7 separate regions of the Homo sapiens genome follow, and regions 1, 2, 3, 4, 6 and 7 are each linked to region 5. The links come from fine-mapping of genetic effects on gene expression. A gene starts in region 5. Each other region holds a variant in brackets. All regions are shown on one strand. Distances are between the middles of the regions. Region 1 overlaps BCR (BCR activator of RhoGEF and GTPase). Region 2 overlaps RAB36 (RAB36, member RAS oncogene family). Region 3 overlaps BCR (BCR activator of RhoGEF and GTPase). Region 4 overlaps BCR (BCR activator of RhoGEF and GTPase). Region 5 holds the start of BCR (BCR activator of RhoGEF and GTPase). Region 6 overlaps BCR (BCR activator of RhoGEF and GTPase). Region 7 overlaps BCR (BCR activator of RhoGEF and GTPase).

Evidence for each region. PIP is the estimated chance that this variant, and not a neighbour inherited with it, causes the effect.
Region 1: its variant is fine-mapped to the expression of BCR in sigmoid colon (GTEx, PIP 0.95).
Region 2: its variant is fine-mapped to the expression of BCR in whole blood (INTERVAL, PIP above 0.99).
Region 3: its variant is fine-mapped to the expression of BCR in whole blood (TOPMed, PIP above 0.99). The same link has a PIP of 0.9 or more in T cells.
Region 4: its variant is fine-mapped to the expression of BCR in ileum (GTEx, PIP 0.97).
Region 6: its variant is fine-mapped to the expression of BCR in lung (TOPMed, PIP above 0.99). The same link has a PIP of 0.9 or more in anterior cingulate cortex, blood mononuclear cells, pancreas, spleen, sun-exposed skin and thyroid.
Region 7: its variant is fine-mapped to the expression of BCR in whole blood (TOPMed, PIP above 0.99).

What each region holds. Positions count from the first base shown.
Region 1 is chr22:23,293,942-23,297,941 of GRCh38, reverse strand. BCR (BCR activator of RhoGEF and GTPase) reads right to left here. Exons shown (of 23, transcript NM_004327.4): 16 at 2,787-2,918. Among named protein-coding and RNA genes, the nearest start is that of LINC02556, 31 kb to the left of the region's middle. The variant T/C (reference allele first, on the strand shown) is at 2,104.
Region 2 is chr22:23,146,716-23,151,072 of GRCh38, reverse strand. It overlaps RAB36 (RAB36, member RAS oncogene family), which reads right to left. Exons shown (of 11, transcript NM_004914.5): 3 at 919-1,010. It also overlaps a transcript of RSPH14 not described here. Among named protein-coding and RNA genes, the nearest start is that of RAB36, 3.4 kb to the right of the region's middle. RefSeq lists enhancers at 599-1,099, 1,100-1,600. The variant G/A (reference allele first, on the strand shown) is at 2,456.
Region 3 is chr22:23,209,306-23,213,305 of GRCh38, reverse strand. All of the region lies in intron 1 of BCR (BCR activator of RhoGEF and GTPase), which reads right to left. Among named protein-coding and RNA genes, the nearest start is that of BCR, 31 kb to the right of the region's middle. The variant G/A (reference allele first, on the strand shown) is at 1,571.
Region 4 is chr22:23,203,932-23,207,931 of GRCh38, reverse strand. All of the region lies in intron 1 of BCR (BCR activator of RhoGEF and GTPase), which reads right to left. Among named protein-coding and RNA genes, the nearest start is that of BCR, 25 kb to the right of the region's middle. The variant A/C (reference allele first, on the strand shown) is at 2,292.
Region 5 is chr22:23,177,830-23,182,132 of GRCh38, reverse strand. It overlaps BCR (BCR activator of RhoGEF and GTPase), which reads right to left and starts at 1,624. Exons shown (of 23, transcript NM_004327.4): 1 at 1-1,624. The coding sequence starts at 1,172. It also overlaps a transcript of RSPH14 not described here and the pseudogene BCRP8. RefSeq lists silencers at 1,094-1,173, 1,194-1,463, 1,534-1,773 and an enhancer at 1,894-2,704.
Region 6 is chr22:23,316,178-23,320,534 of GRCh38, reverse strand. It overlaps BCR (BCR activator of RhoGEF and GTPase), which reads right to left. Exons shown (of 23, transcript NM_004327.4): 23 at 2,498-4,357. It also overlaps the pseudogene POM121L11P. Among named protein-coding and RNA genes, the nearest start is that of LINC02556, 8.3 kb to the left of the region's middle. The variant C/T (reference allele first, on the strand shown) is at 2,394.
Region 7 is chr22:23,303,180-23,307,179 of GRCh38, reverse strand. The region is part of intron 16 of BCR (BCR activator of RhoGEF and GTPase); the gene reads right to left. Among named protein-coding and RNA genes, the nearest start is that of LINC02556, 21 kb to the left of the region's middle. The variant A/G (reference allele first, on the strand shown) is at 1,522.

The DNA.
Region 1 (4,000 bases), 120 kb before region 5:
CTGACAGAAGAGCACAGGTCACGTGCATAAATACTTCAGTAGCATTGCAGAAAAGAGTTTCAAAAGATGGCCTGACATGATAACACAGGAAGAGGCCTATCAGCTCTTTTCTCTCTTTCACTGAGACCCCCAGTTACTTAGCAATAGTACTCAGAGGTCCTGGTTCAAATCCAGCCACTCCCAGGATTCCAGTGATTGAAGATTTGGATGAATTGAGTCAATGGTTGGCAGAATCTGAACCTCCCTTTACCTGGTTTGATGAGCTGAAAAAAGGAGCCAGGCACCCAGGCTGTGAGTATCCCTGGGCTGAGCAGTGACACTGTGCCAGATGCAGGCTGGACTGTGGGGGAGGAATGCCCTAGGCTGGGTGGGGGAGACAGAAAACATGGAGAGGGAGAGAGAAGTGGGAGCGATGGGAGCACGACTGGCTTTGCAGTCTGCTCCCTCTACCTCCCTGAATACCCAGGGCCCTGATTCTGAGCAGGTTAGAGAAGCATCTCCTGAGTGTCAAATGAGCTCTCTCAAAGATCTGCTGCAAGGACCGAATGGGAAAGCACATGTGGCCAGGCACAGTGGCTCAGGCCTGTAATCCCATCACTTTGGGAGGCTGAGGCAGGAGAATCGCTTGAACCCGGGAGGTTGCAGAGAGCCAAGATCACACCACTGCACTCCGGCCTGGGCAACAAGAGCAAAACTCTGTCTCGAAAAAAAAAAAAAAAACAAAAAACAAAAAACAACTTAGCCAGGCATGGTGGGGCACGACTGTAATCCCAACAACTTGGGAGGCTAGGGCACAAAGATTGCTTCAGCCAGGAGTTTGAGGTTGCAGTGAGCTATGATCCTGCCATTGCACGCCAGCCTGGGAGACACAGCCAGATACTGCCTCAAGAAAACAAAGAACAACAACAACAACCAAAGCAAGCACGTGTAAAAAAGAACCTGAGCCGTGACCATCACCCAAACTATGACCGTCATTTGACTGATGCTAAAATACTTCGGATCTCAAAGGAGACCAGCACTAAGTACTCCATCAAGAGTGGTGTGGCCCATCTGTGTGGTACAATCTCCCACCATGAGAATCCACACAAAGGCTGGCAGAGTGAACAAGACAGTGCAGTGGGACAGCGACAGGAGAGCTGAGAGCAATTTTTAGTTAATTTATTTTGTTTTAGACAGGGGTCTATGTTGCCCAGGCTGGTCTTGAATAGCTGGGCTCAAGCAATCCTCTCGCTTCAGCGTCCTGAGTAGCTGGAATACAGGCATGTGCCAGAGGAGTCTTTTTGCTTTTAAACCTGATCTCAAAGTATAGGGAGCCCCAGGAGGCTCTGAGCCACTGAGTTCCCTTATAAGCTTCCAAGGCAGAAAAACAGGCAGTAGCTGCACCTCCGAAGATGTGGCCAGCCAGGCCAGGGTGGCAGAAGGGGGTGAGGCCAGCACTTGGTAAAGATTTGCTGATCTGAATGAGAATGTGGGATCCATCAGCAAAGATGACAGGTGACTCAGGGAAGAGCCACCCTCTCCCTTCATTCTTCCTGGCACTTGGTATTTTTTTTTTTTTTTTTTTTTTTGAGACGGACTCTCGCTCTGTCACCCAGGCTAGAGATCAGCGGTGTGATCTTGACTCATTGCAAGCTCCGCCTCCCAGGTTCATGCCATTCTCCTGCCTCGGCCTCCCGAGTAGCTGGGACTACAGGCACCCGCCACCACGCCTGGCTAATTTTTTGTATTTTTAGTAGAGACGGGGTTTCACGGTGTTAGCCAGGATGGTCTCGATCTCCTGACCTCGTGATCCGCCCACCTCGGCCTCCCAAAGTGCTGGGATTACAGGCGTGAGCACCACGCCCAGCCTGGCACTTGGTATTTAACCACAAGAGGATTTTTACTTCCTGCTTAGGGAGGGAGACTGGGCTTCCTGAGGAGCCCTGTGCTTCTAGGGGCATGTGGAAAGCCAAACCCACTCCCTCTAGAGGCCTCTTGTGAAGATGGAAGGTCCTGGGAAGAGAGAGCTGTACCCACAACCCACTGATATAATGCACTATAAGGAAAGCACGATCAGGGCTTCCTCTCAGCTACCCCCGCGCAATTGTGAGGGTGGGAACAGGA[T/C]AAACAGGGCCTGGGGCGCCAGCTATGATCCTCCAGGAAACCCTGGTGGCGTGCTCCCAGGGGCTAGACAAGCTTCTGAAGGACAGAGGGCCCAGGCAGTCTCCTTAAGAACCAGGGCCCCCTTGCTGGTCCTGTATGGACACATTCTCGGTCTCACCTGGGGGCTTCCAGATTAGCCTGGGAGGAGACCTGTCTGTGTGCACCCTGTTCAGAGATACAGCTCTATACCCTAGAAATTGGGTCTAGACCACAGATAGGGGATGCCAAGCAGGCAGCCTCTGGGACCCCTGTGCTTGCAGGCAGCCTCTGGGACCCCTGTGCTTTTCTAAGAAGACTGGCACAGGATGGGCCAATTTCAGCCTAGGACACCATCTAACTGTTCCACCTTGGGTTCTCCTAAGGCCGGGCAGGAACTGAGGCCCCAGCTGCAAAACCAAGTTGAATGGAAATTCCTTTGGGAATGAGCCGACGCAACAGACACGCAGACAGAGGGTGGTACGTCAAGACCCATCAAGATACATGCAGGCACCGGCTCAGGTCTCCCACGATGGATGTTTCAGAGCCACAGCTGCCCACCCCACCCCACCCTGGGTGCAAGGCCATGACCATCTCAGTGTCCCCAGGGGCTGCATGAAAAAGGACGCCATGCATCGGGCAGGGGAGGGTAGGGATGGCTGCCTCACCTGGACCTGGCCCTTCCCCATGAGTCTGTCCGTGCTCTCGCCGTCCTCCTTGGGGATCTTCGTCTTGTTGTAACACTTTTCATAGCACAGTATCCTCAGGGTCTGGGAGCCCTCCAGCTCTATCTCAAATTCCTGCAGCCCCAAGGGAGAAGGGAAGTCCAGTGTGAACAAACGGGTCAATGTTATGGCTGAAGGGTCCTCTGAACCGGGGCTCTCCCTGCTGCCCTTGCTGGCCCAGAGGGACCAATGCCTGAGACCCTCCTCCCTTAGTCCTGGGACACATGGAAGTATTCCTTGTAAGCACCCCTGGCATGAGACCGTGGCCCAGCCCGGATGCTTCCAGAAGCTCCGACTGCCTTTCAAACTTAATCCAAACTCCTTACACCAGCATCTCAAAGGGTGATCCCCACACCACCTGCCTCACAATCGCCAGGGTACTTGTTAAGATATTTCTATGGGCTGGGCACGGTGGCTCACACCTGTAATCCCAGTACTTTGGGAGGCCAAGGTGGGCAGATCACTTGAGACCAGGAGTACGAGACTAACTAGCCAACATGGCGAAACCCCATCCTACTAAAAATACGAAAAATAGTATGGCGTGGTGGTGCATGCCTGTGATCCCAGCTACTTGTAAGGCTGAGGCACGAGAATTGCTTGAATCCGGGAGGCGGAGGCTGCAGTAAGCCAAGATCATGCCACTGCATTCCAGGCTGGCCAACAGTGTGAGACTCTCCCTCAAAAAAAGATATTTCTATGGACTCTGAAAGATAATGATCTGTCGATGCAGGTTCACTTTTATGGCGGTGAGACTATTCTGTAAGATATTATTATGGTGGATACACGTCATTCCACGTTTGTCAGAACACATAACATGTGTAACACCAAGAATGAACCCTACCTAACATCAACTATGAACTCTGGGTGGTAATGATGGGTTAATGCAGGCTCATCAACTGTAACTCATGTCCCACCCTGGAGTGGGATGTCCATAATTGAGATGGGGGGCAGGAGGTACATGGGAACTCTGTTCTTTCTGCTCCATTTTGCTGCAAACCTAAAACCGCTCTTTAAAAAATGAATTATATCTAAAAGGAAACAAAAGAGTGATCCTTGGGGTTGATACAGGAGGGAGAGGGACTTGGAGGAAAAACTGCTCCCCGAGCTCTCCAGTTGTCTGCCGTGGGTGCGTGGTGTTAACTCTCTCCTCCATCACC
Region 2 (4,357 bases), 31 kb after region 5:
AGCAGACTATGAGCTCCTTAGGAAGAGGGGCAAAAGCAGGCCCTTGTACCTATTTGTTAAAAGAAGGAATGACTATTTCACAATCCCTCTGCCAGTGGTGGCAGGAGCTGCCGCGGCAGGAAGAGGACAGACACAGCCCTCGCCCTCTTGGGCTAGGTCTAGTGAGGAATCCAGCCTGCAATTCTGTGAGATAAGTTCTTGGGGGCACAAGAGCACCCAGGAGGGGTACCCTCCCCAGTCCAGGGGCAAGGGTAGTGGGGGGTCAGAGAAGGCTCCCAGAGGACTTGACACGCTGAGACCTGAAGGGGAAGGGGAAGGGGAAGCGAGGGGATTAGGAAAGACATTCCAGACAGAGGAAATGAACTTGTACCAAGACCTGAGGCTGAAAAATCACCTGCGTGACTTAGAAGAGGGAAAGTTGTTCCATATGGCAGGTGTGTTAACTGAAGCCAGATGAAAACCCCAGTCATCTGGCTGGGCACGGTGGCTCACACCTGTAATCCCAGCACTTTGGGAGGCCGAGGCAGGCTGATCACGAGGTCAGGAGATCGAGACCATCCTGGCTAACATGGTGAAACCCCGTCTCTACTAAAAATACAAAAAATTAGCCGGGCGTGGTGGCGGGCGCCTGTAGTCCCCGCTACTCGGGAGGCTGAGGCAGGAGAATGGCATGAACCCGGGAGGCAGAGCTTGCAGTGAGCTGAGATCGCACCACTGCACTCCAGCCTGGGCGACAGAGCGAGACTCTGTCTCAAAAAAAAAAAAAAAGAAAAAAAAAAGAAAACCCCAGTCATCTTCAGGCCTGTACAGGGCTGCACCAGCCTCGTGTGTGTGTTTCATTTGTTCATTCTTTCACGTGCTTCATGCACTCATTCCTTCTTGCCACCTGCTCCCCCATCCCACACCCTGCAGGCTCACCCGACAGTCCCCGTGTTCCTGCGTTGGCAGGCAGCGCTGACCTGCCCGTGGAAGTGCTCCCTGAGCTGCAAACAGGCTTCCGGCGTGTACCACTGCAAAGAGACAGACAGACGGACACATCATCCTGCAAAGCTGTGGCTCCGCCCTCGTAGCCAAGCAGTGAGGGGAGATGATCTTCCCAGCCTTCCTTCCTAGGCCTCACAGCTGGCAGCCTCATTAGCTTTCCCTGACCCATTTGTCATGTGTATCTTCTATTTCCTCAGCCTTGAGGCTCTGGGGCCTTGTGAGTCCAGAGGGGCGAGCCCAGGCAGGGACTTGGAGATCTGTGTCTCACCTGGGGCCGCAGTTCCCTTGCTGCATGCATGTGACAGGCCTGTCTGCTCTGGGTCTCAACCCTCTCAGGGCGAGACGAGTGGAGCTCTTTTGGTGCCAAGATCCTCCAAGATCCAATTAGCCAGGTGCAGTAGTACATGCCTGTGGTCCTAGATACTGAGGAGGCTGAGGTGGAAGGATTGCTTCAGCTCAAGAGACAGAGGCTGCAGTGAGCTATGATCATGCCACTGCACTCCAACTTGGGTGACAGAGTGAGACCCTGTCTCTAATCCATACCTTCTATGAATCTCTGATGACATTTTGTTTTAAAAACATGCATACATGTGCCTGGAAAATGTCCTAGGAGGCGCTTTCTGCTGTCCACGTTTCTTGGAAGGCAGACCTGAGCAGTGGTTTAAGAGCATGGGCCTCAGGGTCAGAAAAAACTGCACGTACCCCACCCACCCTCACCTGGTCTGTAATTAGAAAAAAATGAGATTAAACAAACTAAAGATGACCATTATTTTTTGCCATTGGATTGGCCCAGGCTAAATACAGAATGTGGCAAGGATGTGGGGAGAAGGACACCATTGAGGCTGTTGGTGTGATCTGTGTATGGCAAGGGTCCCGCCCCCCGCCCCCCACCCCTGCACAGCCACAGCCACCTGCTCTGTCCCTCTGAACACTGCTTGGATCCACAGCTCCCCTCCCTCAGCCGCAGTGTCTCAACCATGGATTCGGGCTCTGCCTGGCCCATCTGCCCTCTCAGTTCCAGCTGTGATTGAGGCAGCAGGGATGGTGAAAGGAGACTGGCAAAGGGCAAGTTACAGAAACTTATCGAGCTCCAGTTTCCTTAAATATTAAACAGGGATGCTCATAATAGCACCTTTTCATGTGGTCGTTGGAGGAGTAACTGAATAATGCAGGTGAGCAGCTTAGCCTGATAGTCTACTTTCCTGCAGAAGAGCAGCAGCTACCATGAACAAGCTGGCTGCTTCTTTCTGTCAGCTTCCATGACAGCTTTAAGCTAGGGACTGGCTCAGACACAATGGTCATTACAGGATGGCTGGAAGACTGTGATAATGAAGGCTGCAGGGTAAGAAGTGTGAGCTGATTTCAGAGACAGGGAAACTGAGGCACATGGCATAAAGGGAAGGACTTGCCTGGCAAGCAGTCTGAAGACCCTGCTCAACCTGACTGAATTTCTCAGGGCCCTGGGGTGCAG[G/A]ATGAACTTGACCAGCAGTGGCCTTGATCCCTGACTATTATGGGCAGGAGGGGAGAATGCCACCTGTGAAACCAGGATGGATTCCCTAAGCTGCTTCCCTGGGGTAGGGTGCTCTGGAGCCAGACACGGCCAGGTCAAATCCCAGAGGTACCAGGAGCAGCTGTGTGATGTCAGGCAACCCTCCTTAACTCTGATCCTCGCCGTCTGCTCTGCCAATGAGGTTCTTCATCTCATGATACCTGGACTGTTTTGTGCCAATCACACTTTCCTTCCTTTTGACTCAAGAAAGACCAGTCTCTGTCATCCCTAGTTACCACTGTCAAGCTCTGCAGAGAGAATAATTGCCTGAGCCTCTGTTGAGATGGAAAACCCATGGGGAACTGTCCACAGGTCTGAGACACAAAGCCTTTCTCTGTAGGTGTGTGAAGAAGGAACTTAGGGAGGAAGGTAAAGAAGGGGGAAGGAGGAAGAGCCACATACTCCAAATACCCAGGACCTGTCTAGAGTCACCTCCTCCTCACCAGCCTGGCCACAGAATCCAAGATGCAAAAAAGGCCATTCCATGGAGAGGATCTATCCCTCTGCACCTGTCCGAAGCCACAGAGGCAACCACTGAGAGTAGGGGCTTATATATCCTGCCAGAAATATTTTCTGCATATATAAACAAATAGACATTTCTCCCTCTCCTTGTTTTCACACACCGGAGTGTGCTGCACACACTCTACTGCACTCTGTTCCATGCCCTGCATTTTTACTTAACGGTTTACTTTGGCTCTCGTTGCATGTCAGCTCCTGAAGAGGTTGCCTCATTCTTCCTCATGTCTGTGCCAGGAAGCATTACTTGTTTAACCAGTCCCCTCTCCGAGGATGTTTACGTTGTATCTTATCTTCTATTCTTACAAACTGCTCCAACCCCTATCCTTATGCACATTGTAAACCCATGCCAGAATATCTGCCAAGTAAATTCCTAGAAATAGAATAGCAAGGCCAGTTGTGGTGGTCCACACCTATAATCCCAGTGCTTTGAGAGGCCCGGGTGGGAGGATTGCTTGAGGCCAGGGGTTCAAGACCAGCCTGGGCAACATAGCAAGACTTCATCTCTATTAAAAAAAATTAAAAATTAGCCAGGCATGGTAGCACATGCCTGTGGTCCTAGCTACTCCGGGAGGCTGAGGCAGAAGGATTGCTTCAGCCCAGGAGTTAGAGGAGTGAATTATGATGGCACCATTGCACTCCAGCCTGGGTGACAGAGCAAGATCCTGTCTCTAAAAAAAAAAGAAAAAAGAAACAGAATGGCTGGATCTTAGAGGGCAGGGTCATCTTCTATATTGGTAAATATTGTCCACTGCCCCCTATGGAGGTTGTACTCAATTTGTATTCCCTGCTGCAATTAATATTGGATTTTAATACAGACACAAGAGAGCTGTGAGTTTTCAAGCTCATAGAGGCGGAATGGCAAGAGGAGAGAGCCCTGGATTTGGGGTCATGGAACTGGAATGCTGTTTTGATAACAACAACGATGATGAGAACAACAGCAACTATGACTGCAGGGGAGCTCCTGCATACCATGAGCCAGGCACCCAATATGAGAGGAATTACCTTCATGTAACAGTGGCTCTGAGAGGTTGAGTAATTTGCCCACAGCCACACAGCTTAATGACAGAATCAGAATGAAGGATTCACATCAAGGACTGTCTGGCTGCAAAATCCCAGCCCTTATAACCTCCAGGCCACACTGCTGCCCAGTGTCACCATTAACTTGCGGTCCCACCTTGGGCAGTCAGTGACCAGTCTCCCAGCTCCTCAAGGTAAATCTGACAATGGACAGACCTCCTTGATTCACCTGCTTTACTTCTAGGCATGAGTGTAGAGTGGGGAGAGCTGATGTGGCTGCAGGGCCAG
Region 3 (4,000 bases), 31 kb before region 5:
AGTCAGCAACGCTGCCATCCCACAGCCTGGCCAGTGCCTACCCTGGCAGGCAGAGCCTTGGATGTACCCAACCAAGGACAGCCAAGCTCAGGGCCATGATTGTCTGTGGAGAGATGGCTGCAGGGGTCAGCCACATCCTCTCCGGGAAGGCTTTCCTGAGAGCCAGACAAGCAAGGAGACAGTCAGGTGAATGAGCCCAAGCGTCAGAACAAAACTAGACAAGGGAGGTTCTTGTGGTACGTCCCCAGGAGCAGCACTCCGTGAGGAAGCCCGAAAGCCTCCCAAATTAGAGAGAATGCCCATCTGATTGCCAGTCCTTGTCCTTTTTGAGGCCGGCAGCCTCCCAGGAATCAAGTTAAAGCTGCCGTCCCTCACATTGCCAAGTTTTCTGCAGACAAGACACTGATTTATGACCAAGTAATTCATATTCTGGTCTGGGCAATATTCAGAACAGGGTGTGCAGCTTGCAGCTGCCACATCTCTTGCCCAGAGAGCAGGTGCATCTATGTTCCTCTTCAGTGAGAAAACAAACCAACGGACAGAGTCATAAATGCCCTCTCCATCAGAATTGGAGTGAGCAGCCCATGGAAGCTGTGTGTGTTGAGAGACACAGCAACGCTCTGGGGTAGGCACAATCCATAAGCCAAGTCCACATGCTCATTCCAAAAGGCCCCTGTGTCCCCAGAGCAAGCACTGCACTTCTGCTGGAGATGCTGGCGGCCCTGCAACAGAGGAGGCTGCCCCAGGCCCCACAGAGCCCAGTGGGGGCTTACTTCAGGCCTTACTCCACTGCTGGGATTTTCTGCACCTATGCAGCAACAACTCCATCAAGCTTCCCAGAAGCCAGTGTACTCCCTGTTAAGGCCCTGGGGTCCTGAGCAATGGGTGTCTCTATAGACTCCAAATACCACAGCAGTTCCCAGGGGCACCTGTCAGCAGTTTCAGATCCAAGGACTATGGACAGTGAAGGGATCCCACTTTGACCACAGCCCATCCTTCAGGGTCCCCTCCTGTACAAACCCAGTGTGTCTGCCAATCCCAATCGCAGCCAATCCTACCACAGCTCAGATTCCGGGCTGTAGGGGTCCATGTGGCTCGATGGCTTCTCTCCTCTCTCCAGCCCGCTTCCCAGGGTCTGGCCACTCCAGCAGCAAAGATAACAAAGAAGAAACCAGCAACGGAAAGAGGAGAAGCTCATGGGAAAGCAGCAGTCCCCTTGCAGAGGTCAGAGAGTGCAGTTTCCCATCCACCTGCCACTTCAGACCCTTATGGGAGGCTGAGGGTAGGGCTGGCAGGACCCTGGTTATGGGGTAGGGGAGTCCTGCAGACAGTGGGAAGTGGGAACAGGGAGGGGGTTTTGTTCTGGGGCACTCTGAGAGGAGCAGCCCCAAATCTAGAGGGAAGGGTCCAGGCTCAAGAAGGAACTGAGGACAAACTGAGTGAGAACAGCTCCACCAGCCCCTACCCCTGGAGGGTGAGATGTGGCCTGGAAGATAGGACTTCTATTGAGAAGCTCTAAGATAATCCCAGCACTCTGGGAGGCCAAGGCGGGTGGATCACCTGAGGTTAG[G/A]AGTTTACAACCAGCCTGGACAACATGATGAAACCCTGTCTCTATTAAAAATACAAAAAACAAAACAAAACAAAACAAAAAAAACTAGCCAGGCGTGGTGGTGGGCGCCTGTAATCCCAGCTGCTCGGGAGGCTGAGGCAGGAGAATCCTTGAACCCGGCAGGCGGAGGCTGCAGTGAGCCAAGATTGTACCACTGCACTCCAGCCTGGGCAACAGAGTGAGACTGTCTCAAAAAAAAGGGCCGGGCGCAGTGGTCACGTCTGTAATCCCAGCACTTTAGGAGGCCAAGGCAGGCGGATCACGAGGTCAGGAAATCGAGACCATCCTGGCTAACACAGTGAAACCCTGTCTTTACTAAAAATACAAAAAAATTAGCTGGGTGTAGTGGCGGGCGCCTGTAGTCCCAGCTACTTGGGAGGCTGAGGCAGGAGAATGGTGTGAACCCGGGAGGCGGAGCTTGCAGTGAGCCGAGATCGCGCCACTGCACTCCAGCCTGGGCGACAGAGCAAGACTCCGTCTCAACAAAAAACAAACAAATAAAAAAAGAAGCTCTAAGAACTCTGTCACCAAAAGCTATGTACCATGTGATCCCATTTATGAAAAGCCCAGAAAAGACAAATCCACAGAGGCAGAAAGCAGACTGGTGGTTGCCAGGACTAACAGAAGAAGGGGATGGGGAGAGAGTGCTAATAGGTATAGGGTTTCTTTTGGGGGTGATGAAAATGATCTGCAATCAGACAGTGATGATGACTGCACAACTCTGAGATAATACTAACCACCACTGAATGGTCCATTTTAAACGGGTGAACTCTATGGTATGTATGTTACATCTGAATAAAGATGTTAGTGGGATAGAAAGGGGAAGAACAGTACTGACCCATCTGTGGGATGAAATAATCCTCGGTAATAAAAAGGAATGCCCTATTGGTACACACAACTTGCATGAATTTCAAATGCATTATCAAAGTGAAAAAAGCCAGAGCCAAAAGGTTACACACTGTACAATTCTATTTATATGACATTCGGAAAAGTGCTAAACTGTAAGGGGAGAAAGCACATCAGTGGTGTCGTGGGCTGCAAGTAGGAGAAATGCCTACAAGGAACAAGGGGTAATGCAAGTTTCTGGGGTGATAGGCCTGCTGTGTATCTTGATGAAGGTAATGGCTACAGAACGCTGTCACACCTCACAGAACAGTATACCAAGAGTGACTTTCATTGTCTGTAAATTACACCTGAATGCACATACGTGCACATATACAACCATCAAATGACATCATGACATCTTTCAAGCCTTTAATTTTTTTTTTTTTTTTCTTTTTGAGACAGGGTCTTACTCTGTCACCCAGGCTGGAGTACAGTGGCACAATTGTGGCTCACCGCAACCTCGACCTCCCGGGCTCAAGCTATCTTCCCACCTCAGTTTCTCAAGCGGCCAGGACTATAGGTCCATGCCACCATGCCCAGCTAATTTTCAAATTTTTTTGTAGAGATGGGGTCTCACTTTGTTGCCCAGGCTGCTCTCAAATTCCTGGGCTCAAGCAATCCTCCTGCCTCAGCCTCCCGGTAATACAGGTGTGAGCTGCTGTGCCCAGCCTAAGTCTTTAAGATGTTTGAAAAAGAACAGATAATTCACAAGATATGTATTTTTGTTTTACCTTCAACCCATAATTTCTTTTTTCTAGGGTAAAAATTACTATAATTGGAAATTTGTTGAAACAGTAAAGGAAGTTAGTTGAAAAACAAATAGCTGTTAAGTGGGTGAGGGGCAAATAATGTAAAAATCTGATATGTGAAAAATACCATTGAGTAGGGGCGCAGTGGTGCATGTCTGTAATCACAGTTACTCAGGGGGCTAAGGCAGGAGGATGGCCTGAGGCCAGGAGGTTGAGACCAGCCTGGGCAACACAGCAAGACCCCATCTCTAAAAAAATTAAAAAATAGGCTGGGCGCGGATCACAAGGTCAGGAGATCAAGACCATCCTGGCTAACACGGTGAAACCCCGTTTCTACTGAAAATACAAAAAATTAGCCAGGTGTGGTGGCGGGTGCCTGTAGTCCCAGCTACTTGGGAGGCTGAGGCAGAATGGTGTGAACCCGGGAGGCAGGGGAGGTTGCAGTGAGCCGAGATCGCGCCACTGCACTCCAGCCTGGGCAACAGAGCGAGACTCCATCTCAAAAAAATAAAATAAAAATGAATAAATAAATTAGCAAACAAGCCACGAAATTTGTACACCCATGTTCCTGCCAACATTATTCACAACAGCCAAAAGGTGGAGGCAACCCAAGTGTCTACTGGCAGAGAGATGGATAAACAAAATGTGTGTCTACCAATGGAATATTATTCAGCTTTAAAAAGAAAAGAGATTCTTTTTTTTTGAGACAGAGTCTCACTCTGTAGCCCAAGCTGGAGTGCAGTGGCGTGATCTCGGC
Region 4 (4,000 bases), 26 kb before region 5:
GGTGTCACAGGCACACACGGGGTGTAGGGCACTGAGCAGGGCCTATGGCAGTCGCACACTCCATGCTCACTCCATCCTCCATGCAGAAGTCTTCTCTGGCCTCTGGGGGTCAACACCAGACCACCCCACATCATCACTAGCTGGTCTCTCACCCCAACACCATATGCCAGCTATCCCAAGTGTCTGAGAAACCTGTGGCAGGCCAGGCTGTTAGGCTCTTTCATTCCTTTGTGACAGTCCCTGCTTAGAAGGCCTCTCCTCCTCCCCTACAATGGCCTAACATACTCCTTTTGTTTGTTTTGTTTTTCAGAGACAGGGTCTGTCTCTGTCGCCCAGGCTAGAGTGCAGTGGTGCAATCACAGCTCAATGTAGCCTCAAACTCCTGGGCTCAAGCGATCCTCCCAACTCAGCCTCCAGAGTAGCTGGAACTACAGGTGTGCACCAAAACACCTGGCTAATTTTTAATTTTTTGTAAAGACAGCGTCTTGCTATGTTGCTTAGGCTGGTTTTGAACTCCTGGGCTCAAGCGACCCTCCCAACTCAGCCTCCCAAAGTACTGGGATTACAATATACTCCTTTTGAGTCCATTCAAGATCCAACTAATGGGCCATCCTCTCCTTAATGTCTTCCTTCTGCTAACCCAGCAGAGTCAGTCACTTCTCAGTGCCTGGTTGGTACTCACTTCCATCCCAGCACCCCTTTATCAGCTGTTTTTAATATATGTCTATGGGTTCCTTGAGGTCAAGGACAAAGTCAAGGCCTAAGCATTGTGCTTGGACCCCAGTAGGTGTCACATCAACTTCAAATGAACAGATGAATGGTTGGAGGATGAATGGATGGATGAATAGGTGATGACTGAATGGATGCATGTTTGGATGGATGAGTGAATAATGGATAGTTCAATGTTGAATGGATGGATGGTTGGCTGGATGTTAGACAGATGATGGATGGATGGATGGAGGGAGGGAGGGAGGGAGGGAGGGAGGGAGGAATGAATGGATGACAGAGGGATGAATAGATTTAGTTGGATGGATGATGAATAAAGAATAGTTAAATGGATGGTTGTATGACTGGTTGGATGGATGGGTGGATAGATAAATAGATAAATGTTTGGATCTTGGATTGATGATGAATAGATGGATAGATGGATGGCTTGGATGAATGATGGAATGGCTCAAGCACAGCTACCCCTTTCTCAGGAACATCTGCTGCTAGGAAATAAGAGGAGCAAGTTTGCTCATCTTGGGGCTTGAAAAGGTTTCTGAGTTTTAACACCCTGTTCTCTCAATGTGGAAGGGTTTTTTGGTAACTTTAATCAATGAATGACTATTTTCTTAACTTTTTTTTTTTTTTTTGAGACGGAGTCTCGCTATGTTGCCCAGGCTGGAGTGCAGTGGCACAATCTCGGCTCACTGCAAGCTCCGCCTCCTGGGTTCATGCCATTCTCCTGCCTCAGCCTCCCGAGTAGCTGGGATTACAGGTGCCCGCCACCACGCCCGGCTACTTTTTTTTTGTATTTTTAGTAGAGACATGGTTTCACCGTGTAAGCCAGGATGGTCCCGATCTCCTGACCTCGTGATCCGCCCACCTTGGCCTCCCAAAGTGCTGGGATTACAGGCGTGAGCCACCGCCCCCAGCCTATTTTCTTAGCTTTTTATCCTGGAAAATTTCAAACAAATACAAAAGTAAGAGCACAGCATCATGAATGCCCATTACCCCATCATTTGGCTTCAACGATTATTAGCTCATGGCCAGCCTTGTTTCAGGGAATATTCATTCAGCCCTGGGAAGCAGCAGGAAACAGGGAAGAGAAAGGGAAGTTAGAAACCAAGTGACCATCTCTCATCCAGCTTTTCCTCCTCCGGCAACTTCTCTGAGGAAAGAATCCTCATGGGGTTTGGAAGACTACCCTACCTGCCTCACAGGTTCTATAGGAGAGAAGCTCCTGTGAGCTCCTGAGCACAGATGTGAGACGCCCACACCTGGCTCTGTCATCGATTGCATCACCACCAGGCATTTGGAGGCAGCTCGCTGTGAAACACAGGTTGGCAAACTGCAGCCCACAGGCCAAATCCAGCCCACTGCCACCTGTTTTCATGTGACCTAGGCCTTAAGAATGCTCTTTATAGTTTCACATGCTCACATTCCAAATGGTTATGTAAGTATCCACAAAGTAGCATCGATTTTGCCTCTCAGCCACAAACATAAAATTAGTTACTATCTGGTCATTTAAGGAAAGTTCAGCCAATCCCAATACTGTAGAGTAAAGTAAAAAAAAAAAAAAAAAAATT[A/C]TTGGTTCAAATCTTGGCTCTGCTGCCTGAGCTTCTGATCCTGCCTAGGCTTTGGCTGTCTGAGTATCCCCTTGGCGAGCAGCAACCACCAGCTCCTTGCAGAAATAGAGCAAGGCTCGGATCCTGGACGCTGAATGGGATCCCCTTACAAAGCACAAAGCCAAACCCAAGTGCAAAGTTCCAGTAAAGGGAGGGATCCTGTCTCTCCTGCAAGCCTTCCAGAGAGGGAACACCGGCAGATCCGTGAGAGGAGGAGAAGGAGGGTCTTCAGGAGTCAAAGTGCACCTTGAGACAGGCCCACCAAATGCAATATTCTGAAGGAAAGCGTGGCTTCCACTGAGGCATCTGTACCCCCACAGGAGTGACAACGTTCAGTGCCGGTATCCTTCCTGTCCTTATGCCCTCCAGACTGACCAGCCCATCTCCAGCACCGGCCAGCTCAGTACCAAGACAGCCCCTACTCCAACTGGCACTAAGAATGCTCAGGAAAGACTAACAGGCTTTCCCTGCAGGAAGGATACCTTGCCTTCTGATCCCAGGTGGGGCCTGCAAAAGGCTGGGAGGCTGTTGGGGAATTGGTCATCTGTAACAAAGGTAAATTATGGCCTCAAAGTACCTAATGTGCTCCTCCCACTATAGCACAGAAATAGGGGTGGCCACACACGCATGCCTGCTCATCTCAGTGCTGGCCTCAGCACATGCATTCCTGACCAAGCGGGGCTGTGCTCTGGCTGGCAAGACACCAGCTGGCACTACCAGGCCTCCTGCTGCCAACCACCTGCTTGCACATCATCACCTCCGCCCTGGCAGACACCCCCATGCTGCCGTCTCCCCCATCCACGCGGACGGCAGGGCCTCCCGCTGCCCACGCTCTGCACTTTGGCACGTTGCCCCAGATGAAACCTGCACGGCCTCTGAAATCTGTTCCAGTCCTGGTGGTGACCTGTAGACTGGCCAGTGGGCAGTAAGGGAGGACAACAAATCAGCCAGCAAAGCAGTGTCCTGGTTCCCATTAAGGGTGCACACAGAGGCCAATCCACCCCAATCCACATTACTGCAGGAAGCCAGACACAACCAGGATCCTACAGGAAGGCTGCTTTGGGACATCCACCAAGAGGGATTTCCAAATAATTTGCTGGGAACTCAGAGCAACATGACTTAATTTTATTTAGAATCACAAAACTAACGGATCTTAAAATAATTTTCTGGGAACTCAGAGCAACATGACTTAATTTTATTTAGAATCACAAAACTAACGGATCTTAAAAATGCTGCCATTCAGCTTCATCATTTACGGACAGGAATTCAGAGGCCCAAGGAGTCTACGTGATTCACTGGAGTCAGAGTGGCGGCCAAGGGCACAGCTAAGATGGGCAACGCAGAGCAAGAGGAGGAGCAAGCGTGGGTCCCAGCTCCATAATCCATGAGCTGGGATGGCTAAAACTGAACTGCTGGCTCCTAGTTGTGAGCGCTGGAAAATAAGACGGAACACCCTCCACGGTGCAGGACGACTAGTCAGTGCTGAAGAAGGGGCCATTCCTCTCCTTTCCTCCCCAAGCCCATGACACCATGCTGCCCTCCCTCCAAACGTGGTCTCACCATTATCTGCCCTCCTTCCAGCCAAGACCATCTGAACCCACTGCCTGCACAGGGAGGTGTTTGTCCTCCCGTCCCAGCCCAGCTTCTGCCAGCCAAGTGCAGCCATGCAA
Region 5 (4,303 bases):
CGCTTATGGCACTGCGGCGTGGGGGGACTGCTGCTGTCGAAGGACTGTTGCGAGTTCTGCGAGGGAGAGCGGCTTTTGTCCCGGAACATGCGGTAGGTGGTGGGGCTTGGGGACACGCGGCTGGACTGGCCAGAGGAGAAGTCCTCCTCGCTGGAGGTGAGGTTCTCATTGGAGCTGCAGTCCGGGGTATAGCCGCCTCCGCAATCCTCAAAACTCCGGGGGGAGTAGGACCTGCGGGGCCAGGTAAGGCGCTTCTCCTGCTCAGAGGTGCTCTGGCTGCGCAGGAGCGGGCCCTTGCCCTCCCCTTCCATCATGCCCCCGACGTAGATGCTCTGGTAGGGCTGGTACTCCAGGGGCGGCCAAGGGGGCCTGCTACCGCCATTGGCGTCGATCAGGTTGTCCTTCAGGAAGCGGGGGTTCAACTCGGCGTCCTCGTAGTCGCCGTCGACGCCGCAGCTGCTCTCCGAGGAGCGTCCCCGGTAAGGGGGCCTGGATGCATCCCCCACGCTCGAGCCCGCGCCGTGCTGGGACTTTTTGCGCTCCATCTGCATGGCCTGGCTGCCCAGGGAGCTGATGCGGTCCGACACCTCTTTGTCGTTGACCTTCACCAGGCCGCGCTCGTGGTGAAACTCGACGTTCACGTAGAAGGGCTTCTCGGCGTCCGCCCCGGGCTGGCCATGGCCCTTGCGGATCCGCTCGAAGTTGGACCTGAGCGCCGCCACGCTGGCGGGGGGTCCCCGGTCGTCCCGTTCCCCCGACGCGGCTGCCCCGGGCCTGCGGGCGGTCCCGGGCCTGGCCTTACCCGGAGAACCCTCGCCGTCGGGCCGGGCCTCGGGCTCCTCGGCGGGCGGCGGGTCGGCTCCGTCGGCGGGCGCTGGCTGCGGGCGCGACGCGGACGCTCGGGGCTCGGAGGCGCCGTCGGGGGCCTGCGCCGCGCGCCGGAAGCCCCATCGCTGCCGGTCATAGCTCTTCTTTTCCTTGGCCAGCAACGTCTGCAGGTAGATCATGCGGAAGCGCTCCTGGTTCACCTCCTGCTCCAGGCGCCGAATGGAGGCCTTGCAGCGCTCCAGCTCCTGCTCGATGTCGCCCACTGAGCGCAGCTCCATGCGCGGGGGCTCTGAGTCCGGGAACTGCGCCTTCCACGCCTCCGCGAAGCCCACCGGGTCCACCATGGCGCGGCCGGCCTTACCTGCGCCGCCGGGCTGCGCGCGGGGCCCGTCTCAGCGGCGGCGCGGCGCCTCGCCAGCCCGGCCCCGGGCGCCGGGCGGCCCCCATGGCCCGCGCGGCGGCGGCGGCGGCGAACAATGCCCGCCCACTCCCTGGTGGCAGGTGAGGCGGAGCGGGGCGCTCGGCGCGCGGGGCGGGGCGCGCCGGGGGGAAGGGCGCGGGCTGCGCGCGCCGCTATTGTGTGCGGGGCTCCTCCGCACGGCGAGGCGCGGGCGCTGCTCTCCGCTCCGCCAGGCCGCCGCCAGACTCTGGCCACGGCCCGCGCGCTCCTCGCCTCTCGCTTCCGCACCGCCCCACAGCCCCGCCGCCGCCGTGCCGCCGCCGCCGCCGCCGCCTCCTCGGACGCTAAGCTCAGCCAGCCGGCTCTCGCCGCACTCCCGCCCGGCCCGCACTCTGCGCCGCAGGAAGGGGAGGGCCGGGGGGAGGTGGCCGCGGCGCGGATGACGGAGCCAGGCGGGCCTCTTAAAGGGGCCGCGCCGTGGGCACAGGGCGGGGGGGCCCCCTGGAGGCGGCTCCCCCATCGAGCCGCCACCCTCCCCCCGTCCCTGTGCCTTTTGGGAAACTGAGGCCCTAACAACAGCGAATTGGACTGTGCAACTCGCAGCCCAGGGGTCCCCCGTAAAAAAGACACCGGACTCCCTGGTCCATAAAGACCTTTCCAATACAGAGGTCTGGGCCAGTTCTGCAGTCCTGGAACAGGAACACTTGGCTCCCCTCCGGCCAGGAGGACTTCTCCGGCCAGTCCAGCCGCGTGTCCCCAAGCCCCACCACCTACCTCATGTTCCGGGACAAGAGCTGCTCTCTCTGGCAGAACTCGCAGCAGTCCTCCGACAGAAGCAACCTCCCCCCTCTGCCCCTACCACGCCGCAGTGCCATAAGCGTCACCGGCACTGCCCAGTCGTCGTGTCAGAGGCCACCATCGTGGGCATCTGCAAGACCAGGCAGATCTGGCCCAACGATGCGGAGGGCACCTTCCATGGAGACGCAGGTAAGTTCCTCACACCTCACAGCCTGGCCTCTCACCAGCCTCAGGGCTGGGCACACTAGGGACCACCCAGCAGGGCCCAACTCACAGAGAGGCCAGGACCAGGCAGGTCACCCCGCAAGGCAGGGAGGGCCAGGCTGAGTAACCAATGCCAGCACCCTTGTTTCAGCGGGCCTCTCACGTTGTGGATCTGCTGTGGGTGGCTGCCACACGGGTTTGTCACAGCAGGACCACATGATGGATGATAAATAGGGATTTCTCCCTCAGGTCACTCAATACCCACACCTGCCTTCCTGTGTGCTGAGCCATGTGTTTGTCCCCTGGCCTCTCTTGAGCTCCAGAGGTCAATGTAGTTTTTCCAGGACGACCTGACTCAGAACTTCCCTGATTAGCCTCCCTCTAAGGGGGCGGCCAACCTGCACTGAGGTTCACAGGGCTGGGTGGAAGACAGCCCAGAGCAGGGAGTGAAACAAAACCTTTGATGGTTCTCTGGGGACACAGAGATCTGAGACACAGTGGAGAGCACTCTGCAGGGACTCTGATGGGCACAAACTGAAAATACCCAAACCAGCCCGCTGGGTTGGGGGAAAAGGAAACAGGATTTGGCAAATGAATTACTGGGCTTGAGTCCTGACCACCTCTCCCTCTCTGCCTCAGTTTCCTTGAAGTGAGAAGCACATCTGCCTCCAAGTGCTGTTGTCCCTGTGTGGATGTTAGGGATTATCATGCCCTCCTCCCAATGCCAGCGTCATCTGGAGCAGATACTTTGAAGTCCAATCTAAAGGACTGAGCCCAGGCTAGTAGCCAGGCCAGCCCTGCTTGGGTTCAGGGCTTCCTGCCGACTCCTGGCTGTGTGACCTCAGCAGTGTCTCTCTCAGCCTCTCTGAGCCTCAGTTTTGTCATCTGTTCTTCATGTGCCCAATCCTGCTTCCTTTTCCCCTGACCCGGCAGGCTGGTTTGGGTATTTTAATTTTGTGCTCATCAGACTCCCTGCTCTTTGCCCTGTCTCAGATTTCCAGGCTTCCCTAGAGAACCATCAAAGATTTTGTTTCACTCCCTGCTCTGAGCTGTCCTGTCTTCCACCCAGTCCTGTGGGCCACGGTACAAAATGTTGAGAGCATCCTGCATAAAATGCCCAGATGGGGCAAACATAAAACACAACCTGATAAATGGTGTGTAGGGGTCGATTTCGTGATTGCCTGTTAATATTAGTGCCCCTGGAGAACATTCCTGCCCTGGAAAACCCATGGGCCCCAGTTTCTAGGCTGGGTGGGCGGTGCGCAGCTCACTGCTGCCCTCTGCAGGCCTTGCTAACCTCCTGCCATCCTGGTCCCTTGGACCCAGCGGACCTTCTCATCCCCTTCCCATCAGGCTGCAAATAGCCCATTTTGCATGTGAGGAAACTGAGATGCAAATGATGCCCTGGCCACTAAAGGGGCTGGAATCCCAGTAGTGCCATACTGAGCAGTGCTCTCATCCTCAGTGGCCTATTTTTTTTTTTTTTTGAGACGGAGTCTCACACTGTTGCCCAGGCTGGAGTGCAGTGGAGTGATCTCTGCTCACCGCAACCTCTGCCTCCTGGGTTCAAGTGATTCTGCTGCCTCAGCCTCCCAAGTAGCTGGAATTACAGGCGCCTGCCATCACGCCCAGCTAGTTTTTTGTATTTTTAGTAGAGACGGGGTTTCACTGTGTTGGCCAGGCTGGTCTTGAACTCCTGACCTCGTGATCTGCCCGCCTTGGCCTCCTGTAGTGCTGGAATTACAGGTGTGAGCCACTGCACCCAGCCCTCAATGGCCTCTTCTTTAAAATGGGTATGATAAAGGCAGGCACAGTGGCCCATGCCTGTAATCCTGGTGTTTTGGGAGGCCGAGGCAGGAGTATCGCTTGAGCCCAGGAGTTCAAGACCAGCCTGGGCAACATAGTGAGACTCCATCTCTACAAAAAAATTTAAAAATTAGCCTGGCATGGTGCCTCGTGCCTGTAGTTCTACCTGCTCAGGAGGCTGGGGTGGGAGGATTGCACTGAGCCTGGGAATTTGAGGCTTCAGTGAGCTAGGATCACGCCACTGCACTCCAGCCTGGGTAACAGAGC
Region 6 (4,357 bases), 140 kb before region 5:
TTCTGTTTTTTTGTAGAGACACGGTTTCACCATGTTGGCCAGGCTGGTCTCGAACTCCTGACCTTAGGTGATCTGACAGCCTCGTCCTCTCAAAGTACTGGGATTACAGGCATGAGCCACTGCGCCCGGCCTCTCACTACGTTTAAGTGATGCCATGGCTCATGCCTGTAATCCTAGCACTTTGGGAGGCCAAGGCAGGTGGATCACCTGAGGTCAGGAGTTCGACACGAGCCTGGCCAACATGAGGAAACCCCGTCTCTAGTAAAAATACAAAAATTAGTCAGGCGTGGTGGTACAAGCCTGTAGGCCCAGCTACTTGGAAGGCTGAGGCAGGAGAATCACTTTAACCGGGAGGCAGAGGTTGCAGTGAGCCAATATCATTCCACTGCACTCCAGCTTGGGTGACAGAGTGAGACACCGTCTCAAAAAAAAAAGAAAAAAAGAAAGAAAAAAATGTGATGCCGGGGCATCTCAGCCTCAATACCTGCATGAGCACAGTCATGTCCAGGCCAGGGCTGCTGGTCGAGGTCTGGCCCCATCTCTTCTAGAAGAAAGGGAGTAAGCTTGCAGGGAGGCTGGGGGACAAGATCCCAGGATCTCAGCCTCCGCTCATGGATCAGCTCTGAGACCCTGACTGAGCTGGGGGTGCTCTGTGTGCACTGGTTTCCCCAGCTGTCAAGTAAAGGGATTGGATGAGGAAGTCTTGTCAAGGTGGAATGATCTCAGATTTGGGGCAGCAGTGAATGATCCCGCTCCCTGGGCCCATGCCAGTGGCCTGGCCTCGGCTGAACACAGCCCCAACACTCTGGAATGGGGATGAGGGGGAAGTCAGCTCTTGCTCTTAGTAAGAGAGATGCAATAGGGCTCTGTGGCTGAGCTGGGTGCCTTGCCTCACACCTGTAATCCCAACCTTTGAGAGGCTGAGGCGGGAGGATTGCTTGAGGCTGGGAATTTTGAGAATAGCCTGGACAACATAGCCAGACCCCATGTCTACAAAATAATAAGAAAACACACAGCTATAGTCCAAGCTACTTGGCAGGCTGAGGCAGGAAGGTCCCTTGTGTCCGGGAATTGGAGGCTGCATTGAGCTATAATCGCACCACTGCACTCCAGCTTGGGTGACAAAGTGAGACCCTGTCTCTAAAAGAAAAAAATATCGGCCTGTGAGCATGGGTTTGATCTTCAAACAGGACCCGGAGGGTAGGGACAGACAGTGCTGTCACCCTTAGGTGCTGAACACTCAGAAACGGGCCAGCGGCAGTCCTTTCCTCACCTGCAGACACCAGATTGGGCAGAACAGCACGTGGCACTTGCAGCTCTTGCAGTGAGGGCAGAACCCAGTGTCAACCCTTCTGCCTGTGGGAGGGGCTGCTGAGGCCTGCGGAGAGGCCAGGGTGGAGGCTCGTCCCCTTGTCCAGCCCTTGGCGTGGTCTCCACCAGGTCCCCAGTCCACCAGTGCAGGGCTCCCCTGAGCCTGCTGCTGCCACGGGCCCTGTCTCTACCCAGGACGTCCCCCCACCCTCGCAGTGTCAGGGAAATGATCATGGTGGCGGTGACACTCCGCAGGCAGGGCTGCTGAGAGAAGCTGAGAAGGGTCACACTGCAGGCAGGCGCCCGTGTGACAAGCCCCTCTCACCCCGAGAGAGCTGACCAGGCAGCTCACGAGCAGAGCCACATCCCGGGAGTCCGAGAAAGGTCCTGGCTGGGCTCAGCCACCTCACTGGCCACGGGCAGCCTTTGTCGTGTGAGCCTTGCTCTCCTGGGGAGGCTCAGGCTGACAGCTGTGGGCATTGCCGAGGGTAACCTGTGGCCCAGTGTATATGGCCGGCTCTCCTCAAGCTGCATTCATTCAAGTAGGACCCAGGGTGCATGCCCATCTCCAGCCCAGGGCAGCTCCCCTGTAAGCTGGGTGAGCTACTGAAGCCAAGGCGGGAGGCAGCTGACAACACCCACGGCCCATGCGGAGGTGGTGGAAAGGCTGGACTCAGCAGCAACACCAAATCCCGGACCAGGCAGAAACCACCCAAGACTGAGGGGCTCGTGCCAGAGCGGTGGCCACAGGTAAGAACCCGGGCCCAGGGTGGCAGGAATCCTCCATGTCCCAGGGCTTAGCATAGCAAAGGAAGACCAGCCGGGTCACCCTGGTGGCCATCTGTCCCTGTCCCACCTGCAGAGTCAGAACAGCCTCTCCCCAGTGGGGATCATCTCTCTCTGCCAAAGCAACAGCGGTCCCTGCCCCAACCAGACTACCCCACTCAGTGGGGTTACGGATGCTGCTCCAGCATCCTAACACTGCCCAGCTGGTGCCTGCCTGTGCTCACCCACACCCCCCAGGCCGGCCTTCCCTGCAGCCTGGGCTTGGCCACCTTGGCCTGATTGAGCACTGAGGCCTC[C/T]TGGGCACCCAGCCCTATCACTGCACCTGCTGCTTCCAGCCCCACCCCACCGGCTCAGGGGTTCTTCCCAGCGGCGCTGATCATGAAGTCAACATGCACGCAAGTCGTCTCAGGAAACTTTTTAATGAAAGTGTCGGCCACGGTGGTGTGTAGGTGGCTGAGCTCAGATTGCAGCTGCTAAGACACCAGCCACTTACCAAGAGAAAGCCAGGCTGCTTCAAACCCAGGGCCCAAGGCAAAAAAGCATCACTTCCGGCCGGGGAGTCTGGAAGCCACGCCTTGTGGGAGGTCACACTGGCATCTAGGCCTTCGCCTGCATTGCAGAAGGAGAGCCAGGTCCCCCTCCTGGAGAACGCTGCGTTCCCCAGCCCCACACCGGCTTTGCCACCACACAGGCTGTTGAGGCAGGAGGTGGGTAAGACGTAGCTGTAGACCCAAAGCAACCACCAGCCCTGGGACCCTGCGGGAGAGGAGCACTTTTAGAACATGGAAAAGTGTGGTCATCCCATCATTAGACAGCACACATCCTACATAAATAAAAAGTCGTATGGGGAAGGAGGTTGGGGAGGGAATAAAAAATTGGCACAGACATTGATAGACTGGTTTCCAGTTTCAAGGTAACAGATGCACATCATGAGACCAGAGGAGGCAGAGACAAGGCTGGATTTGGCTTTTCTAAGCAACACGTGTTCCTGCGCAGGGCTGAATGGTCGCTGAGACAGAGATGGAAGCCAGGACAAGGGAGCCCACCGGGCCCAGATAGGTACAGAGAGCAGAGGCTCCTGTTCTGTCCTCGCCACCCACGACGGTGACACTGCTTGTAAATGGTGGCTGTGCTCTCCCAGCAAGAAAAAAGCACAACTAAATCCACACTGCACACAGACGCAGACAGAAAGCCTTCAAGTGGCTGTTTTCTGCTCCCTGCCTTGCCAGGTCCACAAGCAGAGAGGAGTGTCAGGCGCATGGCCCCACTGTCAGGCTCCCTAGTGAGCTGCGGGTTCAGCAGGAGCTGCCCACTGACACACAGGGGACACCCACTCCTCCCACCTTGGGAGCGGGTGCCAGACAGAGCCGCACTGGGTGCTGGTGTCATCCAGGGACCCCACACACTTCCTTAAATGTGATCCTGCTTCCCTCTGGGCAGCTGCATCCTCTCCTCCTGCAGGACCGTGTGGAAACTTGGCTCTCAGTTTGCTCTCCCTTCTCTCCTCTGCCTGCCCCAAGCCCCTCTTTCTAAAAAAGTGATGGAATATTCATGGGGTTATTTCTTGAAAATACTTGGCGGTCTCCATGCTTCTGTTTTCTTTGAGCCAGGTGGTCAGGAGGGTTTACAAAGAATGCCTGGGCTCCCCCGCAGGTGTCGGCAGATGGGGTAGCGAATGGTCCTGTGCCTCCACCTGCTCCGGGAGGGAGTCTCCCGTCTCTAGGCCTGGCCCCTTCCTAACCCTCCACGTATCCTGTTCTCCAGAGACTTCAGAACCCACTCCTGAGAACAGCGGAGCCAGGCGCTTAGAGGAAGACCAAATGCTGCCAGGACACGGATTGTCCAGGGATTACATTCCAGCATCTTATTAGGTATCTGGATCTGTTCGGAAAAAAATTAGAAACTATGTATAAAACTTACAAATATTCAAGTATCAAAAGGTTATTTAGGATGAAAGTTTTAAAACAAGTCATCAGCAAGCTGCTGCCACCAAGTGGAGACTTATACAAAAGTTGAGCGAGTCCACTGAGCTGAGAGGACAGAAATGAAGTCACCTGTGCTGGGGCAGGGGCAGGGACACTGGGGGCAGGGAGTGTGTGGGCAGAGAAGCCAGAGAAGTCCAGGCCTGTGGAAGCCAAACAGGAGAGCGTGGGCCGGAAGGGCGGTCAGGATCGGGGGACGAGGTCGCTCTCCCTGGAGAACGAACCCTAAAGTGCGTAGCCTGGGGTTCCCTCCCTGGGGGTCCTGTCCCCTGACATTT
Region 7 (4,000 bases), 130 kb before region 5:
AGACTGCTGTGAGCCATGATCATGCCATTGCACTCCAGCCTGCGCAACAAAGCGAGAGACCCTGGCTCTACTAACCAACCAAGTAACTGGAAACACAGAAACATGTTAAGCAGGAGACATTCTTACCTTTCCTTCAAAGAACAGCCATCACTGGGCCCCTCTCCCCTTGAAAACCCAGAACAGGCAGAAGCAGCTAACAAGCAACCCAGAGTCCAGGTAAGAAGAGACAGAAAGAGAAGCTGTCCAGACATCAGCGGCTGCCCCTCAAAGCCCCCCTGGAACCACGGCCCACAGGTGCTTTTCAGCAGAGGCCGCCCGGCTCCGGCCCGCCCGGCTGGGGTGGAAGTACCAAAGGAGGCCCTGCATCATGGCCAGGGTGGATGGTGACTCTTGCATGCTTGGCCTTGCTGCTCTGGGAAGCTGGTGGGGCTAAACGAGAGCTTCCAGCCTCCAAGGCCTTTTGACCAGGCTTTGAGGGAAACCCCACCCCGCAGTCTGGCTGGCCAAGGTCAAAGCTTCCCATCACCTCCGGGTTCCACTTTTTTGTGTGTGTGTGGGAAGAACACCCTCCCACCCCAGCCTATTGGTTACGGGAATTTCCAACGTGTCTCCATCTCCTCTAAAGCCCAGAAAAGCTGAGCTTCCTTCTCAAGTGGCTAGTTTCCTGTTGCCCAAGTTTGGAGACTGAGTAAAGTATGACTGGTCAGCCTGCCTTGTGCTGGAAGCAATCCAGACTGTCCAAAATCTGCACCACTCCCAGCAGGTAACCCCAATAATCAAATGCAGTGCCTCTGATGGACCCAGGGTGGAGGACACCCTGCTCAGGTCCTGCTCCCCCAGAGCTAGCTGGCTGAGCAATGTGCAGCCCTGGGTGGGGCTCCAGCCAGCGTCCACTCCCCAGCATTGGTGGTGTCCAGCGCCCACTCCAACCTGGTACTGATGCTGCCAGGAGGGCTCTTTATCGGGCCCCTCTCTGTGACTCCCAGTGACTGAAGACCAGGGTGTTGGCCTCCAGGCACTGGCTCTCACGGCGGTCCTGACTGGCAGCTCCAGTGGGAAAGGCTGTCCCAAGGCTGGCTCTGTTCCAAAGAACAGAGTGTGCGCCGCAGAGCGGAAGCCGTATAAAGAATAGCATGATAATGAGGCCTGTGCCTCAGCTCAGCCAATCCCAAACATTGCTCAAGGCTGGTACGCTCTCTCGTGCAGTTATTTAAAGCACCAGAGAAGTAAACAAGCAAAAGACTGGGGTTTGGAAAAACAGATGACCAAGGGGGAAACAGTTTTCCCTTAAGGGAAAAACCGAGGCACTCCGGATGCTGTCCAGGGTCCCCCTGGGTTGCAAGGTCTTGGTGAGGAACATGCCTGCTGCCTGGCCGGGGACTGGGCAGGCAGGGGTCTGTCTGCTCACATGCAGTGGTCTCAGGAGGATGGACCAGGTTGCTGCTCCTCTCCCCCTGGACTGGGTAAGGCAGGAGCCTTGAAAGAATGACTATGGTCAGCGGGCCTGGCAGATGGTGGCCT[A/G]GAGGTCTGCCTAGAAAACTATCGTGCACATCCATCCCAGGGAAGTGGTGGGGTGGGGGCTGAGGGAGGCCGAAGCCCAACTGGGGCAGGTGCTGTGTGCTGCCCTGAAGCATCACTGACCACTTTGCATGGTGGCTCTGCTGGGGGCCCAGCACTGCCCTGCTTGCTTTGTAGTCAGTGTGGCTGGATTGAGTCACCAATGGGCAGCCGGAGGACATCCTCTCACCCACCCTCAGCAGGGGCAGGGAGGGGGCTATGAGTAAACCTTCCAAAGGAGGAAATGCTTGTTCACTTAGCTCCTTGTAGACAACAGCTTCCTTCACGCCCATCGTCACCAGCCTGGATGGTCCAGCAGGGCAACCCCAGTTGTTCCTGTCTGGGCCCCATGTGTCTGCACTATAACCTACTCCCGGGGGTGGGTCTTTGCTGAGACCACCAGAGAACCTCTGTGTTCACCAGGAGAGAGATTACAGGCCTCCTGCTGTAGTCTATGACCACAATCTGCTCTCCTGAGATCCATCCTGCACCTTTTTTTTTTTTTTTTTAAGGCGGAGTCTCACTCTGTTGCCCAGGCTGGAGTGCAGTGGCGAGATCTCGGCTGACTGCAACCTCTGCCTCCTGGCTTCAAACCATTCTCTTGCCTCAGCCCCTGAGGAGCTGGGATTACAGGCACCTGCCACCATGCCCGGTTAATTTTTGTATTTTTAGTAGAGACGAGGTTTCACCATGTTGGTCAGGCTGGTCTTGAACTCCTGACCTAAAGCAATCCACCCAACTTGGCCTCCTAAAGTGCTGGGATTACAGGCGTAAGCCACCGCGCCTGGCCTCTATCCCACTTTTAACTCTTTGCTTCTCTTCTCTGATCCCAACCAGTCTCTAACATCACTTCAAAAGGAACACACCCTTCTCCCTTAGGATACACTATAACCAGCATCGGTGAGGATGTAGAGAAATGGGCTTTCATACATGGCCACTGGGGATGTAAGATGGTGCAGCTACTCCAGACAACGTAGGGCAGTTCCCCAAATAGTCACCTTGTTGCACAGCCCAGCAATCTTACTAGGTGTTTACTCAGTGAATGAAAACATACGTCCATATAGAGACTGGTACCAAGGACATGTTCGTGGCTGCATCAACCTTAACAGCCCAAACTAGAAATGATCCAAGTGTCTGTCAAATAGTAAATGCAGAAATAAAAACATGTTATATGTATGCAATGGAAAATTATTATCATAAAAAGGAACCAAACAATGCTACCACATGAATAAACCTCAAAAACATAATGGTAAGTGGAGGAAATCAGTCAAAAAAGCCCACTCTAGTATGATTCCACGTTTATGAAATGTGAAGAATGGGCAAATCTCTAAAGACAAAAAGCAGATCGGCTTGGGTCTGGGAGTGGCTATAACTGGGAACAGGGGCTGGGCACGGTGGTTCACACCTGTAATCTCAGCACTTTGGGAGGCCAAGGCAGGAGGATCACTTGAGCCTAGGAATTTGAGACCAGCTTGGGCAGCAAAACAAGACCTTGTCTCAAAAAAAAAAAAAAAAAAAAAAAATAGCCTGGCATGGTGGCGCATGCCTGTGGTCCCAGCTACTTGAGAGGCTAAGGTAGGAAGAGCACTTGAGCCTGGGACATCAAGGTTGTGCTGAGTGTGGTTGCACCACTGTACTCCAACCTGGGCAACAGAGCAAGACCCTGTCTTAAAAAAAAAAAAAAAAAAAAAGGCAACAAGGAAATTGGGGTGATAGAAATATTCTAAAACTGGATTGTTGGTAAAAGTTGTACAGCTCTGTAAATTTACTATAAAATCATTCGGTTATAAAAATGGATGCATTTCATGGTACAAAAGTTAAAAATAAAGGGTCCAAAAGTGGCTCTCAATAGAGCAAGGAGGACCTGTATCACTATCCATGTTGATGGCGGTGTGCTTCAAGAAGAATCCCGTGGAATCTGTGTAAGAATTTGCTCATGTGATCTTACATTTTCATGATGTTTACATCTTCATATCTTCCCCAAATATTGGTTCAAAACAAACATCACTCATTTTGTGTTCCTGCTGCAAGAGACCCCCTGGGGCCTGCCCCTCTCCAAGTCTGTTTAAGAGGCTACATACATAAGTTTCTCTCCTATTGGTGCCTCTGCCACATGGACCATGCATGTCTCATTCATCTCGGAATGCCCCCCAGGCACATCAGAGACCCCCCTGAATGGGTGAATGGCTGTGTGGACAAGACCTACGTGGCCCTCAGATAATCCTTGAAATACAAATGAGGATTCTTGGTGCCTTCATGACGGTATCCGCCTTACCTGACCATACCTCCTCCGACTCCCATCACGTCCCCTGTGACGTGATCTTTATTTTGGCTTATGTTTGTCTCTGCTGCTGGAAAGTAAACGTGGAGGACAGGGCTTTGTCCAGTTCATTCTCTGTGGTATCTCCAGTACCCAGACAGAGACATAAAACATACCTCTATA